Linked DNA regions of Homo sapiens. The protein of the gene in region 2 interacts with the protein of the main gene of each other region in a biochemical or structural test. Each region holds a gene or a part of one and is shown on either strand. Other genes may lie near its edges.

The links. The genes of interacting proteins can lie anywhere in the genome.
Region 1: the proteins of STAP2 (region 2) and CSF1R form a complex in vitro, tested with the Homo sapiens proteins (one study listed by BioGRID).

The regions. Positions count from the first base shown.
Region 1 is NC_000005.10:150,083,533-150,091,021, reverse strand, and holds the start of CSF1R (macrophage colony-stimulating factor 1 receptor isoform a precursor), read left to right. Parts: upstream 1-4,467; 5' UTR 4,468-4,594; coding exon 4,595-4,643; intron 4,644-7,489. UniProt on the Homo sapiens protein: Tyrosine-protein kinase that acts as a cell-surface receptor for CSF1 and IL34 and plays an essential role in the regulation of survival, proliferation and differentiation of hematopoietic precursor cells, especially mononuclear phagocytes, such as macrophages and monocytes.
Region 2 is NC_000019.10:4,328,806-4,335,827, reverse strand, and holds part of STAP2 (signal-transducing adaptor protein 2), read left to right. Parts: intron 1-1,783; coding exon 1,784-1,855; intron 1,856-2,011; coding exon 2,012-2,134; intron 2,135-3,749; coding exon 3,750-3,806; intron 3,807-5,766; coding exon 5,767-5,867; intron 5,868-7,018; coding exon 7,019-7,022. UniProt on the Homo sapiens protein: Substrate of protein kinase PTK6. May play a regulatory role in the acute-phase response in systemic inflammation and may modulate STAT3 activity.

The sequences.
Region 1 (7,489 bases), on a different chromosome or scaffold from region 2:
TGGAGAAATATCTATTCAATGTTTTGCCTGTTTTTTAAAAAAATTATTTTAGACTCGGGAGTAGATGTGCATGTTTATTACATGGGTACATTGCATAATGGTGAATTTGGCTTCCAGTGTACCCAGTACCCAAATACTGAACACTGTACCCAATAGGTAATTTTTCACTTCCTTTTTGCCCTTTCCCCTTTCCTTCTATCCTTCCACTTTTGGAGTCTATTCTTTCCATCTTTATATCCGTGTGGACCCTTTGTTTGGCTTCCACTTATAAGTGAGGACATGCAATATTTGAATTTGCCTATTTTTAAATTTAATTGTTTTTTTGTTGTTGTAGGCAACACTACAACTTTCATTCTTTTTTAAAATTTATTTTCCCATAAATATTTATTAATTGTGAGGGACAATAGAGTGGCTTTAGCTACATATTGCGTGATTCTACATACATTCTTTAGCTACACACTGTATGATTCCATTTATATGACATTATCCTGTAAAGCACAAAGACATTGTGGAAAAGGCAAAACTGCAGGGATGGAGAACAGATCCGTGGTTGTTTGGTGTAAGGGGTTTGGGGAGGGCTTTACTATAAAGGAGCAGCATGAGAAACATTTTCTAGAGTGATGGAGCTGTTCTATATCTTGACTACAGTGGTGGTTACATTGTTATATATATTTGTCAAAACTCATAGAACTATGCACCAAGAGTGATTTTTGCTGAGGAAACACTACAACTTTCATTCTGTATATATTCTGGATATATTTATTTATTGTGGATATAAATATTCATTCTGTGTGTTTTTATTCTCTTGACAGTGTCCTTTGATGCACAAAAATGTTTAATTTTTATTATGTCCAATTTTTCTTTGGTTGCTTGTGCTTTTAGAAACATATCTGAGAAATCATTTCCAATTCCAAGGTCATGAATATTACCTTTATGGTTTCTTTTAAGGTTTTAATAATTTTAGCTTTTATATTTAGGTCTTTAATTCATTTTGAGTTAATTTTTATATGTGATGTAAAATAAGGATTCAACTTCATTCTTCTGCATGTGACTATCTAGTTCTTTTAGCACCTATGTTGAAAAAACTGGTCATTCTCCATTGGATGGTCCTGCCACCCTTGTTGAATATCAGTTGTCCATGAATGTGAGAGTTTACTTCCTGACTCTCAATTTTATTCTATTGATCCATATAGTTATTCTTATGCTGATACCACACTATTTTGATTTCTGTAGTTTTATAGTAGGTTTTGAAATTGAAAAGTGTGACTCCTCCAAGATTGTTTTGCATATTCAATGTCCCTCGAGATTCCATATGAATTTGAGAATCAGCTTTTCCATTTCTGCAGAAAAAGGCTGTTGGGATTTTGATAGGGATTATATTGACCCTATAAATCAGTCTCACTTTGAGAGTACCGCTGTCTTATTAAATCCTCCAACTTATGAAAACAAGGTGGTTTTTCATTTATTAAGGTCTTCTAAATTTCTTTCAACAGTGTTTTGTAGTTTTCATTGTAAAGTCATGCATCTCCTTAGTTTATTCCAAAATATTTTATTTTTGATACTATTGCAAATTAAATTGTTTTCTTAATTTCCTTATTGGAGTATTATCAGTACTATAGAGTTACGTATGTTGATCTTGTATCCTGCAGGTTTGCTGAATTTGTATATTAACTCTAATAGTTGCTTTTTGTAGATCTTTTAGGATTTATCTATATATAGGATCATGTCATCTGTGAACAGAGATAGTTTTACTTCTTCTTTTTTAATTTGGATGCCTTCTGTTTCTTTTTCTTCCTGATTGCTCTGGCTAGGACTTCCAGTACTATGTTGAACAGAAGTGGCGAGAACAGGCATCTTTGTCTTGTTCCTGATGTAAAGGGACCAGCTCTCAGTCTTTTACCATTGAATTAGTTGTGCTTTTTCACATGTGCCCTTAATCACGTTGAGGCTGTTCCCTTTTATTGCTAGTTTGTTGGGTGGGTTTTGTTTTGTTTTGTTTTTAATGAAAGCATGTTGGGTTTTACAGTTACATCAAGTGACATGATCATATGAGGATTTTTTTCATTCTATTAATGTGATGTATTACCCTGATTTTCATGTGTTAAACCACTGTTGTATTTCTTGGACAAATCCCACTTCATCATGGTATATAATCATTTTAATATGCTGTTAGATTTGGTTTGCTGGTGGCTGGGTGCAGTGGCTCACGCCTGTAATCCCAACACTTTGGGAGGCCAAGATGGGCAGACTGCTTGAGGTCAGGAGTTCAAGACTAGCCTGGCCAACATGGTGAAACCCTGTCTCTACTAAAAATACAAAAATTAGCTGGGCATGGTGGCGCATGCCTGTAATCCCAGCTACTCGGGAGTTTGAGGCACGAGAATAGCTTGAACGCGGGAGGCAGAGGTTGCAGTGAGCCGAGATTGCTCCACTGCACTCCAGCCTGAGTGACAGAGTGAGACCCTGTCTCAAAAAAGAAAGAAAGAAAGAAAAAAAAAAAAAGATTTGGTTTGCTAGTACATTTTTGAAAATTTTTGCTTTCTATATTCATGCATTTGTATTGGTCTGTAGTTATCTTTTCTGGCAATGTCTTGGTCTAGCTTTGGTACCAGAAAAATGCTGGCTTCATAGAATGAGTTGAAAAGGATTGGTATTAATTCTTCTTTAAATGTTTGGGAGAATTCACCAGTGAAGCCATCTGGTCCTGGGCTTTGCTTTGTCGGGAGGTTTTTGATTACTGATTAAATTTCTTTTCTTGTTATAGGTTTATTTGGATTTTCTTTTTCTTCTTGAGTCAGCTTTGATTGACATTCATGATTGCTAAAGGTTCAAAACACTTTTCTGAAAAAGAAAGTACATATATACACTCATAAATATACATACAAACACACACATACACACCACACACACACCTGAGTACACGGGAATGATCATTTTCCTGGATCAATGTTATATCAGGATTTTTCAATTTCAAGAAGGAACTTTAGGCTGGGTATAGTGGCTCATACCTATAATCCCAGTACTTTGGGAAGCCAAGGTATGCGAATCACTTGAGCTCAGGGGTTTGAGACCAGCCTGGACAACATGGTGAAACCCCATGTCTACCAAAAATACAGAAATTTGCTAGGAATGGTGGCACATGCCCCTGTAGTCCCAACTACTCAGGAGGATGAGGTAGGAGGATGGCTTGAGTCCGGGAGGTGGAGGTTGCAGTGAGCCGAGATCACACTACTGCACTCCAGCCTGGGTGACAGAACCAAACCCTGTCTCAGAAAAAAAAAAAGAAAAAAAGAAGAAGAAATGACCATGTTCTTTAGAGATAAGAAGTAAAATACTAAGCGAATCAACTAAAAGAGGTAAAAGCAATTGCCTCCAGGAAAAGAGGGAGCAAAGGAATGCTATATATTTTAAGAATTATGCAGAACAATTAGATTCTTTGTAAAAATAAATAAACAATGTAAGTAACGCACAAAAGATAGTTTTATAACCAGACTGCTGGGATCCAAATCCTATCTCCACCATTTGGTAGCTGTTTGACTATGGACAAGCTTAAGGCATTTGATCTCTCTGAGCTTTAGTTTTCCCATCTGTGAAATGAGAATGACAATAGTACTTACCTACATAAAGTTTTGCAGTACTAAAGGAGACAGTGAATGTAAAAGGTTTGGCTAGTAAATGTCCTGTAAAAGGAAGCTTATTGCCAATATTATCAGGCTCTCCCAGACCAACCTGTATACAGGAAGAAAACAAACTCCGTTTCTCCTATAGTCTCACAACACAAAATACTTCTGACCCCAGATGTAGAGGATGGGGCATATTTCCCCATACACCAAGCAATCAACCAATTGTTCAGATTCTGCAGCAGACACGAATCTGGTGCCCTCCGATTCAATTTGAACACTATATTTACCTAGAGATAACGTCAGATCTCACAGCTTGAAGGCTTGAGCCAGGAGTTTGAGGCTGCAGTGAGCTATGATCGAGCCACAGAGCTCCAGCCTGGGCAACAGAGTGAAACTGCGTCTCTAAAATAATAATAATAAATTTTTAAAAGATATGCATTACTTTGGAGATTCCAAGGATTTTAGGAGTTGTAAGCCAGGACATCAGGGTAAAGAAAAAATATATATGTCACAATATCATGCAACCTAACTTCTCTTTGGGATCTGCCAGAGCCACCTGATCACTCTGAAGACCCTCATTTGTGCTACTGACTAACGGTCTGGCTGCTCTTGGACATGTCTCTTCTCCCAAGACCCCTTGAAGATGGCTTTAGAAGGGCCCCAAACTTAGCTAGCTCCCCCCAAGCTCAGGCTGGCCCTGCCCCAGACTGCGACCCCTCCCTCTTGGGTTCAAGGCTTTGTTTTCTTCTTAAAGACCCAAGATTTCCAAACTCTGTGGTTGCCTTGCCTAGCTAAAAGGGGAAGAAGAGGATCAGCCCAAGGAGGAGGAAGAGGAAAACAAGACAAACAGCCAGTGCAGAGGAGAGGAACGTGTGTCCAGTGTCCCGATCCCTGCGGAGCTAGTAGCTGAGAGCTCTGTGCCCTGGGCACCTTGCAGCCCTGCACCTGCCTGCCACTTCCCCACCGAGGCCATGGGCCCAGGAGTTCTGCTGCTCCTGCTGGTGGCCACAGCTTGGCATGGTAAGAGCAGAACGGGGGGTGGGGGACTTTGTTGGGGTGTGATGGAGAAGACCCCTGTGAAAGGATTCAGTCCTTGCCCCTCACTGGGTGTCCTCAGGCTGTTTTAGTCTCCCCAACACTGGACTGCAGGCTTGTGGGTATCTGCTTTGGAGAGGTAGTGGGGTGAAAAGAGATGGGTGTGGTGGAACTGGTCCACCTGGTGCTGTGGATCTGTCCCAGCTCTGCCAGCGACTCACTGTGTGTCCTGAGCAAGCCTCTGATACTCTTGAGGCTTCAGTGTCCACTTCTATTCAATTGCAGGTGTTGGGGGCAGGGGGACAGTGATAGACTAGACCAGAGCAGTGCTTTTCATACTTTCCTGTGCATACAAGTTACCTGAGGATTTTGTTACAATGCAGATTCAGACTCAGTCGGTCTCAGGTGCGACCTGAGATTCTGTATATCCAACACACTCCTGGGAGATGTGAGATGCCGGCACTGCTGGTCCAGACCTACACTGAGTTGGGAGGACCTGGAGAGCTCCTGATGGCTCTGGCAGCTCTGCCAGCCTGTGATTCGATGATTCTATGCAAGATCTGATTTGGAAGGGCCTGATAGGGGTGGTGGTTCTTCCTTGGGTGGCTTGTGTAAGGGGTCAGAGGGGAGAGACAAGAGGTTGGCCTCTCTGGCCCAGGGCTCAGGAGAGGGGAATTCGGGGTGAAATAGGTATAGGGCTAGAGGAGGGATTGGGAAGAGGCCAGTGAGGGTCTCCTGGACCAGAGCCCTCCCAGACACAGGCTGCCAAGTCTCAGGAGGTCCCCAGGCTGTAGCAGTTCTGCAGAATTTCCATCTGGGAGGGAACATGACTAGAGGTGAGGGGCTGCTGTGCTTGGCTTGTTGGCCCAACAAACACATTTCTATTGCCTGCTTATTCAAAGGGACCTTGGGGGAGGATGGGGATTGAAGGGGAGAAAGGACAGCCTCATACTGGCCTCTTCACAGAAGGACCCTAAGGCCGTGGCGCTTCTGGTCCCTGATGAGGAGGAGATGGCCCACTGACCATCCTTCTCTGGCCCAGGCAATCACACTGAGCTTGAGTATTTGGGTTTTTTTTTTTTTTTTCCTGAGACAGAGTCTCTCTCTGTCACCAGGCTGGAGTACAGTGGCACAATCTCGGCTCACTGCAACCTCCACCTCCCGGGTTCAAGTGTTTCTCCTGTCTCAGCCTCCCAAGCTGGGATTACAGGCATACACCATCATGACTGGCTAATTTTTGTATTTTTAGTAGAGATGGGATTTCACCATGTTGGCCAAGCTGGTCTCGAACTCCTGACCTCAGGTGATCCACCTGCCTTGGCCTCCCAAAGTGTTGGGATTACTGGTGTGAGTCACGGCGCCCGGCCTGGACTTCTTATTTTGCAATGTAACTTACATGCAGTAGAAAGCACAGGTTCTTAAGTTCAATGAGGTCTGACAAATGCACACACAGTGTACCCGCCACCCCCTTCATCTCAGAGAGTCCCACAGGTTTGATTTCACTGCCTTGTCCTATCCTTACACCCACAACCTGCCTGTGGGGCAAAAACGGAAAAGTATCTGAGCCAGGTCTCAATTTAATTTTATTTTTTTTATTGAGATGGAGTCTTGTGGCCAGGCATGGTGGCTCACACCTGTAATCCCAGCACTCTGGGAGGCCGAGGCGGGTGGATCACAAGATCAGGAGTTTCAGACCAGCCTCGCCAATATGGTGAAGCCCCCTCTCTACTAAAAAATACAAAAATTAGCCGGGTGTGGTGGTGGGTTCCTGTAGTTCCAGCTACTCAGGAGGCTGAGGTGGGAGAATCACTTGAACCCGGGAGGCAGAGGTTGCAGTGAGCTGAGATCATGCCACTGCACTCCAGCCTAGGCGACAGAGCAAGACTCCATCTCCTTCCTTTCTTTCTTCCTTCCTTCCTTCCTTCCTTCCTTCCTTCCTTCCTTCCTTCCTTCCTTCCTTCCTTCCTTCCTTCTTTCTTTCTTTCTTTCTTTCTTTCTTTCTTTCTTTCTTTCTTTCTTTTTTCTATCTTTTTGAGACCGAGTCTTGCTCTGTTGCCCAGGCTGGAGTGCAATGGCATGGATCTCGGCTCACTGCAACCTCCGCCTCCGGGGTTCAAGCAATTCTGCCACTCCTGAGTAGCTGTGATTACTGGTGCCTGCCACCACACCCAGCTAATTTTTTTATTTTTGGTAGAGACAGGGTTTTATCATGCTGGCCATGCTGGTCTCGAACTCCTGAACTCAAGCGATCCCCCTGCCTTGGCGTCCCAAAGTGCTGGGATTACAGGCATGAGCCACTGTGCCTGGCTTCAATCAATTTAGAAGTTTATTTTGCCAAGGTTAAGGACATGCTGGCGAGAAAAAAACATGGAGTCACAAAAACATTCTGTGGTCTGTGCCATTCTGGATGAATTCGAGGGCTTTAATATTTAAAGGGGAAAGTGGGCTGGAGGGGAAAAGGGGAGGTTGTGGTAATCCACATGTTGCAAAAGAAAAGCAGCAGGTAGGGGAACAGTCAATTATCTCGGTTCAGTAAATTGGCTCTTTACATAGGGAAAGTGAACATAGAGGAGCTGCCTGTGGGATATTTTACCTTTTATCTGTCGCTATCTGCTTAGGAATAAAAGGCAAGGCAGCTTCTTGCATGACTCAGTTTCCAGCTTGATTTTTCCTTTTGGCAGAGTGAATTAGGGTCCCAAGTTTTTATTTTCCCTTCACAGGGGCATGGTGTGTGGGAGGGGGGCCAGATGGTTTTCCAGGGTCCAGTCCCAAGAGAAAGAAGAGATGGGGAGGCTGGAAACCTAAGTTTTCAGCCCAACAGACCAATGATG
Region 2 (7,022 bases):
CTGGTGCTTCCCATGTGGAAAGTCACCTAATTCTCATGAGATCCTCCAGAGTTGGCACCATTATTATCACCATTTTACAGCTGGGGAAACAGACAAAGACAGCTCAAATAACTTGCCCAACAGCACATCGTGGGTACATAATGAAGCAATACAGTGTTTAATCCTGTATTGCTCTAGTCCCAGTGCCTGGAGCAGGGCTGGCACATAAAAAGCCTTCAGTAAATGTTAGGTAAATGCATGTGTGTATCTGTGCTTGTGTCTACGGATGGACAGGTGGATGGGTAGATGGGGGGATGAGTGGAGGCTTGGTGAATACATGCGGGCTTGATGGTGGCTGAGAGGATGTGTGGGTGGATGGATGAGTGCATATACAAGTGGGTGGATGGATGGATGGGGGAGTGGATGGATGGATGAGTGGGCAGACGGGTGGGTGGGTGGATGATGGATGGATGAACAAGTGCATGGATGAATGATAGATGGATGAATAGGTGGATGCACGATGGAGGGATGTATGGATGGATGAACGGGAAGATGCGTGGGTGGGTGGATGGTGAATGGATGAATGCATGGATGGATGATGGATGGATGAGTAGGTGGATGGATGATGGAGGGATGAGTGGATGGATGGATGATGGATGGATGAGGGATGGATGGATGAGTAGGTGGATGGATGATGGAGGGATGCATTGATAGATGAGTGGATGGATGTATGGATGGATGGATGGATGAGTGGGTGGATGGATGAGTGGGTGGATGGATGATAGATGGTGGGTGGATGATGGAGGGATGGATGGATAGGTGGATGGATGGGTGGATGGATTGATGAGTGGGTGGATGGATGAGTGGGTGGATGGATGAGTGGGTGGATGGATGATGGACGGTGAGTGGATGGATGGATGGATTATGGAGGGATGGATGGATGGGTGGATGGATGGATGAGTAGGTGGATGGATGGAGGGATGCATTGATAGATGAGTGGATGGATGGATGAGTGGGTGGATGGATGAGTGGATGGATGATGGAGGGATGGATGGATGGGTGGACAGATGGATGTGTGGGTGGATGGATGACTGGATGGATGGTGGGTGATGTAGGTATTGATGAATGACTGGATGGATGGATGATGAATGGCTCCATGATGGATAGATGGATGGATGGGGGTGATGGACGGATGGATGAGTGGGTGGATGGATAGATGAATGGATGAATGGATGGGTAAATGGTAGGTGGATGGATGAATGGGTGGGTGGGTGGATGAATAACTGGATGGATGGATGTGTGGATGGGTGGGTGGGTGGACGGATTGGTGGATGGATGGTGGGCAGATGGATGGATGGATGAATGGGTGAATGGATGGGTCAATGGTAGGTGGATGGATGAATGGGTGGGTGGGCGGATGGACAGATGGATGATAGATAGATGGCTAGTGGGTAGCTGGATGATGAAAGATGAATGGGATACCATTAAACCAGTTAGTTAACTTACCCCTAGAGCACCCATCTCTATAGATTGGCGGGGGTTGCTCTGAATCCCTCATCACATCGAGGTTCCGTCTGGTCCTTTCTCAGACGAAAACAGACACCCAGAAGCTGGGCCATGGGTGGGGAGGATCTCCCTGAGAAGGTACATTTGATCAGAAACTCAAGGCAGGAGGTAATAAAGATCTGGGGGCAGCGTGGGGCAGAGAGCACAACCAGTGCAAAGGCCCCGAGACAGGATTGAGTACATGAAAGGCACTCAGCTTGGCCAGCTCACCTCTTCTTTCTGCACTTCTGGTCCCTAGGATTACAAGAAGTTCTGGGCAGGCCTGCAGGGTCTCACCATTTATTTCTACAATAGCAATCGGGACTTCCAGGTAAGGATGGGAATGGAGGCTCCAGAGCAGGCCTTCCCTTGAGCCCAGAGACCAAGCAGACAATGTAGATGGTGTGGTCAAGGTGGCTGCTACATCATCCAGGGGGCCTGGAGGCCAAGGAACTGGTGCCCAGATCCCCTGCTTCTATGCCCCCAGCACGTGGAGAAGCTCAACTTGGGAGCATTTGAGAAACTCACAGATGAGATTCCCTGGGGAAGCTCACGTGACCCTGGCACCCACTTCAGCCTGATTCTCCGGGATCAGGAGATCAAGTTCAAGGTAGGTCCCTTGCTGGAGGGGTGCAGAGGGGCGGTGCTTGCAGAAGATGCTCAAATGCTCCTACCCTCCATTGTGCCAACCACGAAGGGGCAGGTAGTACAGGGCCCTGTGGGCCCTGGGTAAGACTTGGGTCTTGACCCCAAAGGAGCTGGGTGCTATGGGAGGGTTTATTTTATTTTATTTTATTACTTTTTTTTTGAGACCAAGTCTCGCCCTGTCACCCAGGCTGGAGTGCAATGGCACGATCTTGGCTCACTGCAACCTCCACCTCCCAGGTTCAAGTGATTCTCCTGCCTCAGCCTCCCAAGTAGCTGGGATTACAGGCGCACGCAACCACTCCTGGCTAATTTTTTGAATCTTTAGTAGAGATGGGGTTTCACCATGTTGGCCATGCTGGCCTGGAACTCCTCACCTCAGGTGATCCACCCACCTCGGCTTCCCAAACTGCTGGAATTATAGGCGTGAGCCACCGTGTCCAGCCGAGGGTTTATTTTTTATTTTTATTTTTTGAGTTTCGCTCTTATCACCCAGGCTGGAGTGCAGTAGTGCAATCTTGGCTCACTACAACCTCTGCCTCCCAGGTTTAAGTGATTCTCCTGCCTCAGCCTCCCGAGTAGCTGGGATTACAGGCGTGTGCCACCACGCACAGCTAATTTTTGTATTTTTGGTAGAGACAGGGTTTCACCATGTTGGCCAGGCTGGTCTCGAACTCCTGACCTCAAGTGATCCACCCACCTCGGCCTCCCAAAGTGCTGGGATTACAGGCATGAGTCACGGTGGCTGGCCTATGGGAGGGTTTAGAGCATGAGAGGTCTGGGAACTGATCTATGTTTTTCTATTATTTTATTTTATTTATTATTTTATTTTGAGACAGGGTCTTGCTCGTCGCCCAGGCTGGAGTGCAGTAGTGAGATCATAGCTCACTGCAGCCTCGACCTCCCGGGCTCAAGCGATCGATCCTCCTACCTCAGCCAAGCACATGCCACTATGCCTGGCTAATATTTTATTTTTTTGTAGAGACAGGGGGCTCGCTATGTTACCCAGTCTGGTCTTGAACCCCTAGGCTCAAGTGATCCTCCCGCCTCGACCTCCCAAAGTGCTGGGATTACAGGCGTGAGTGAGCCACTGCATCCAGCCTGATCTATGTTTTTCAAATGTTGATATAATAACATCAAAAATCATAATATCAGCCAGGCATGGTGGCTCATGCCTGTAATCTGAGCACTTTGGGACGCCAAGGCAGAAGGATAGCTTGGGCCCAGGAGTTCAAGACCAGCCTGGCAACAAAGCGAGACCCTCATGTCTAAGAGAAAAAAAAAAAAGCTGGGCGAGGTGGTGCATGCCTGTAGTCCCAGCTACTCAGGAGGCTGAGGCAGGAGAATCGCTTGAACCTGGGAGGTGGAGGTTGCAGTGAGCTGAGATCGCGCCACTGTACTCTAGCCTGGGCGACAGAAGAATGAGACTCCATCTCAAAAAAAAAAAAAAAAAAAAAAAAAAGAAGAAAAAGAAAAAAGAAAACGGCCCTTTGAAGCAGGGACTCTTCCCTAGTCCAATTTCATTGATGAGTAGACTGAGGCTCACTGACTTGGATTCTTTCCTTTCTTTTGTTCCCCAGGTAGAGACCTTGGAGTGTCGGGAAATGTGGAAAGGCTTCATCTTAACGGTGGTGGAGGTAAGAGTAGTGGCTCTCTGCGCCCTCTCTCCCATTCTCCAGATCTCCTCAAAAAGCCTCCTTTTTCTTTCTTTCTTTTTTTCTTTTTTTGAGACGGAGTCTCGCTCTGTCGCCCAGGCTGGAGTGCAGTGGTGCGATCTCGGCTCACTGCAAGCTCCGCCTCCCGGGTTCACGCCATTCTCGTGCCTCAGCCTCCGGAGTAGCTGGGATTACAGAAGCCCGCCACCACGCCCGGCTAATTTTTTTGTATTTTAGTAGAGACGGGGTTTCACTGTGTTAGCCAGGATGGTCTCTGTCTCCTGAACTCGTGATCCACCCGCCTCAGCCTCCCAAAGTGCTGGGATTACAGGCGTGAGCCACCGGGCCCGGCCAAAATTTTGTTTTATTTTTTTGAGACAGAGTCTCACTCTGTTGCCCAGGCTGGAGTGCAATGGCACGTTCTCAGCTCACTGCAACCTCTGCCTCCCCGGTTCAAGCAATTCTTGTGACTCAGCCTCCCGAGTAGCTGGGATTACAGGCGTCCGCCACCACGCCTGGCTAATTTTTGTATTTTTAGTATACATGGGGTTTCACCCTGTTGGCCAGGCTGGTCTTGAACTGACCTTGAGTCATCTGCCCGCCTTGGCCACTCAAAGTGCTGGGATTACAGGCGTGAGCCACAGCGACCAACCGTATTTCTTATTTTATTTTTTTGAGACAAGGTCTCTCTCTGTTGCCCAGGCTGGAGTGCAGTGGTGTGATCATAGCTCACTGCAGCCTCCAACTCCCAGGCTCAAGCAGTCCTCCTGCCTCAGCCTCCCAAGTAGCTGGGATACAGACACACACTACCACATCTGACTAATTTAAAAATTTTTTTGTAGAGCAGGGTCTCACTATGTTGCCCGGGCTGGTCTCCAACTTCCGTGCTCAAGCAATCCACCCTCCTTGGCCTCCCAAAGTGATAGGATTATAGATGTGAGCCACCATGCCTGGCCACAGAGTGCTAAGTTTTTAAAAATTAGCTGACATTGGCCAGGCGTGGTGGCTCACGCCTGTAATCCCAGCACTTTGGGAGGCCGAGGCTGGCAGATCATGAGGTCAGGAGATCAAGACCATCCTGGCCAACACGGTGAAACCCTGTCTCTACTAAAAATACAAAAATCAGCTGGGCGTGGTGGCGGGAGCCTGTAATTCCAGCTACTCGGGAGGCTGAGGCAGGAGAATGGCTTGAACCCGGGAGTCGGAGGTTGCAGTGAGCCAAGATCGCGCCACTGCACTCCAGCTTGGTGACAGAACTAAACTCCATCTCAAAAAAAAAAAAAAAAAAAAAATTAGCTGACATCATTTATCAACCGGGAATTTTAGTCTACCTTCCTGATTTCCCTCTGATTTCCCTGTTTCCTACCTCACCCTGGCAGGCCATTGAGTTTGAGACCTGCCTGGCCCCTGCAGACTTTAGTTTGAGACCCTAGATTCCAGCATCTACTTTTTTTTTTTTTTTTGGTGGGGTTGGGGAGCGGGGAACGGAGTCTCACTCTGTCACCCAGGCTGGAGTGCAATGGCGTGATCTTGGCTTACTGCAGCCTCCGCCTTCCCAGGTTCAAGTGATTCTCCTGCCCCAGCCTCCCGAGTAGCTGGGATTACAGGTGTCTGCCACCACGCCCGGCTAATTTTTTGTATTTTTAGTACAAACGGGGTTTCGCCATGTTGCCCAGGTTGGTCTCGAACTCCTGACCTTAGGTGATCCGCCCGCCTCGGCCTCCCAAAGTGCTGGGATTACAGGCGTGAGCCACCGCGCCCGGCCCCAGCATCTACTCTCATGCAACACTCCTCTGCAACCCTCTCGAAGCCCTCTTTGCCCTCTAAGGTGTCAGAGTTCATTGCTCTGAGCTCTGGCCTCAATTTGCCACTCTGTGACTTGGGCACAGCCGTCCATTCCCGGCTGGCCAGGTGCAGTCACTGTCCCTCGATCGCCCCTCAGCTCCGTGTCCCGACCGACTTGACCCTGCTTCCTGGGCACCTATACATGATGTCTGAAGTCTTGGCCAAAGAGGAGGCGCGCCGTGCACTGGAGACACCCTCGTGAGTGTCCCGCCTGTCCCGAGGGGCTGCAGGATGGGGACGGGAGGTGGTTGTGTGGCTGAGGGTGGGCGGTGAGTTGGGTCCCCTGGAGTTGGGTCTTGGATTTTGCATGAGGACTGCCTTGGGGCTGGGGGTGGGGGAGGGGGAGGGGGAGTTATGGCCCATGCTGGGGAGGCAGGGCAGGATCTCCAGGAGCGGGTCTAGGGGCCTAGAGGACTGGTAAGGTCTTCAGTGGCGGGGCCTAGGCCTGAGGAGTAGGGACAGGGTCTGGGGGTGGTCAGTCTAGGTGTCTAGAAGGTGATGCTTCGTCTCCGGGGAGGAGTTATTTGTCGGAGAGGGTAACCGGGACCCTAGAGGCGGGGCCTGGATGGGGGGCGGAGCATCGTCTTTGTGGGCGGTTCTTGGTGATCAGGGAGGCGGGCAGGGCCTCCAGGGTAAGGTCTAGGTGTTTGGAGGGCGGGACAGGATCTCCAGGGGAGGCTCTAGGTGCCTACGAGGCAGGGCTGGGTCTCCCTAGGGGTTGGAGCTGCATCTCCGGGGCCAGAATTAAGAGCCTGGCTGGCCGCGGTGGCTCGCGCCTGTCATCTCAGCGTTTTGGGAGGTCGAGGCGGGAGGATTGCTTTTACCCAGTTCGAGACCCATCCTGGGCAACATAGCGAGACCCCATCTCTAAAGAAAAAAAAAACCAAAAAACCCGGCCAGATGCAGTGGCTCACGCCTGTAATCCCAGCACCTTGGGAAGCCGAGGCGGGCGGATCACCTGAGGTAGGGAGTTTGAGACCAGCCTGACCAACATGGAGAAATCCCGTCTCTACTAAAAATACAAAAATTAGCCGGGCCTGTGAGGAAGGGGAATCGCTTGAACCCGGGAGGCGGAGGTTGCGGTGAGCCGAGATAGCGCCATTGCACTCCAGCCTGGGCAACAAGAGCGAAACCCTGTCTCAAAAAAAAAACAAAAAACCCCACAAAAACTAGGAGCCTGGAAGGCCGGACTGGGTCTCCGTGGGAGGGGCCTGGGTCTGGAGAGCAGGGCAGGGTCTCCTGGGCCTAGGGGATGGGGATGGGGCTGGGTCTCAGAGGAGGCAGGGTTTACGTGCAGAAGAGCGGACTTGGTCTCCGGGGTCCCGAGTGGGTGACGCGGCCCGCCACAGGTGC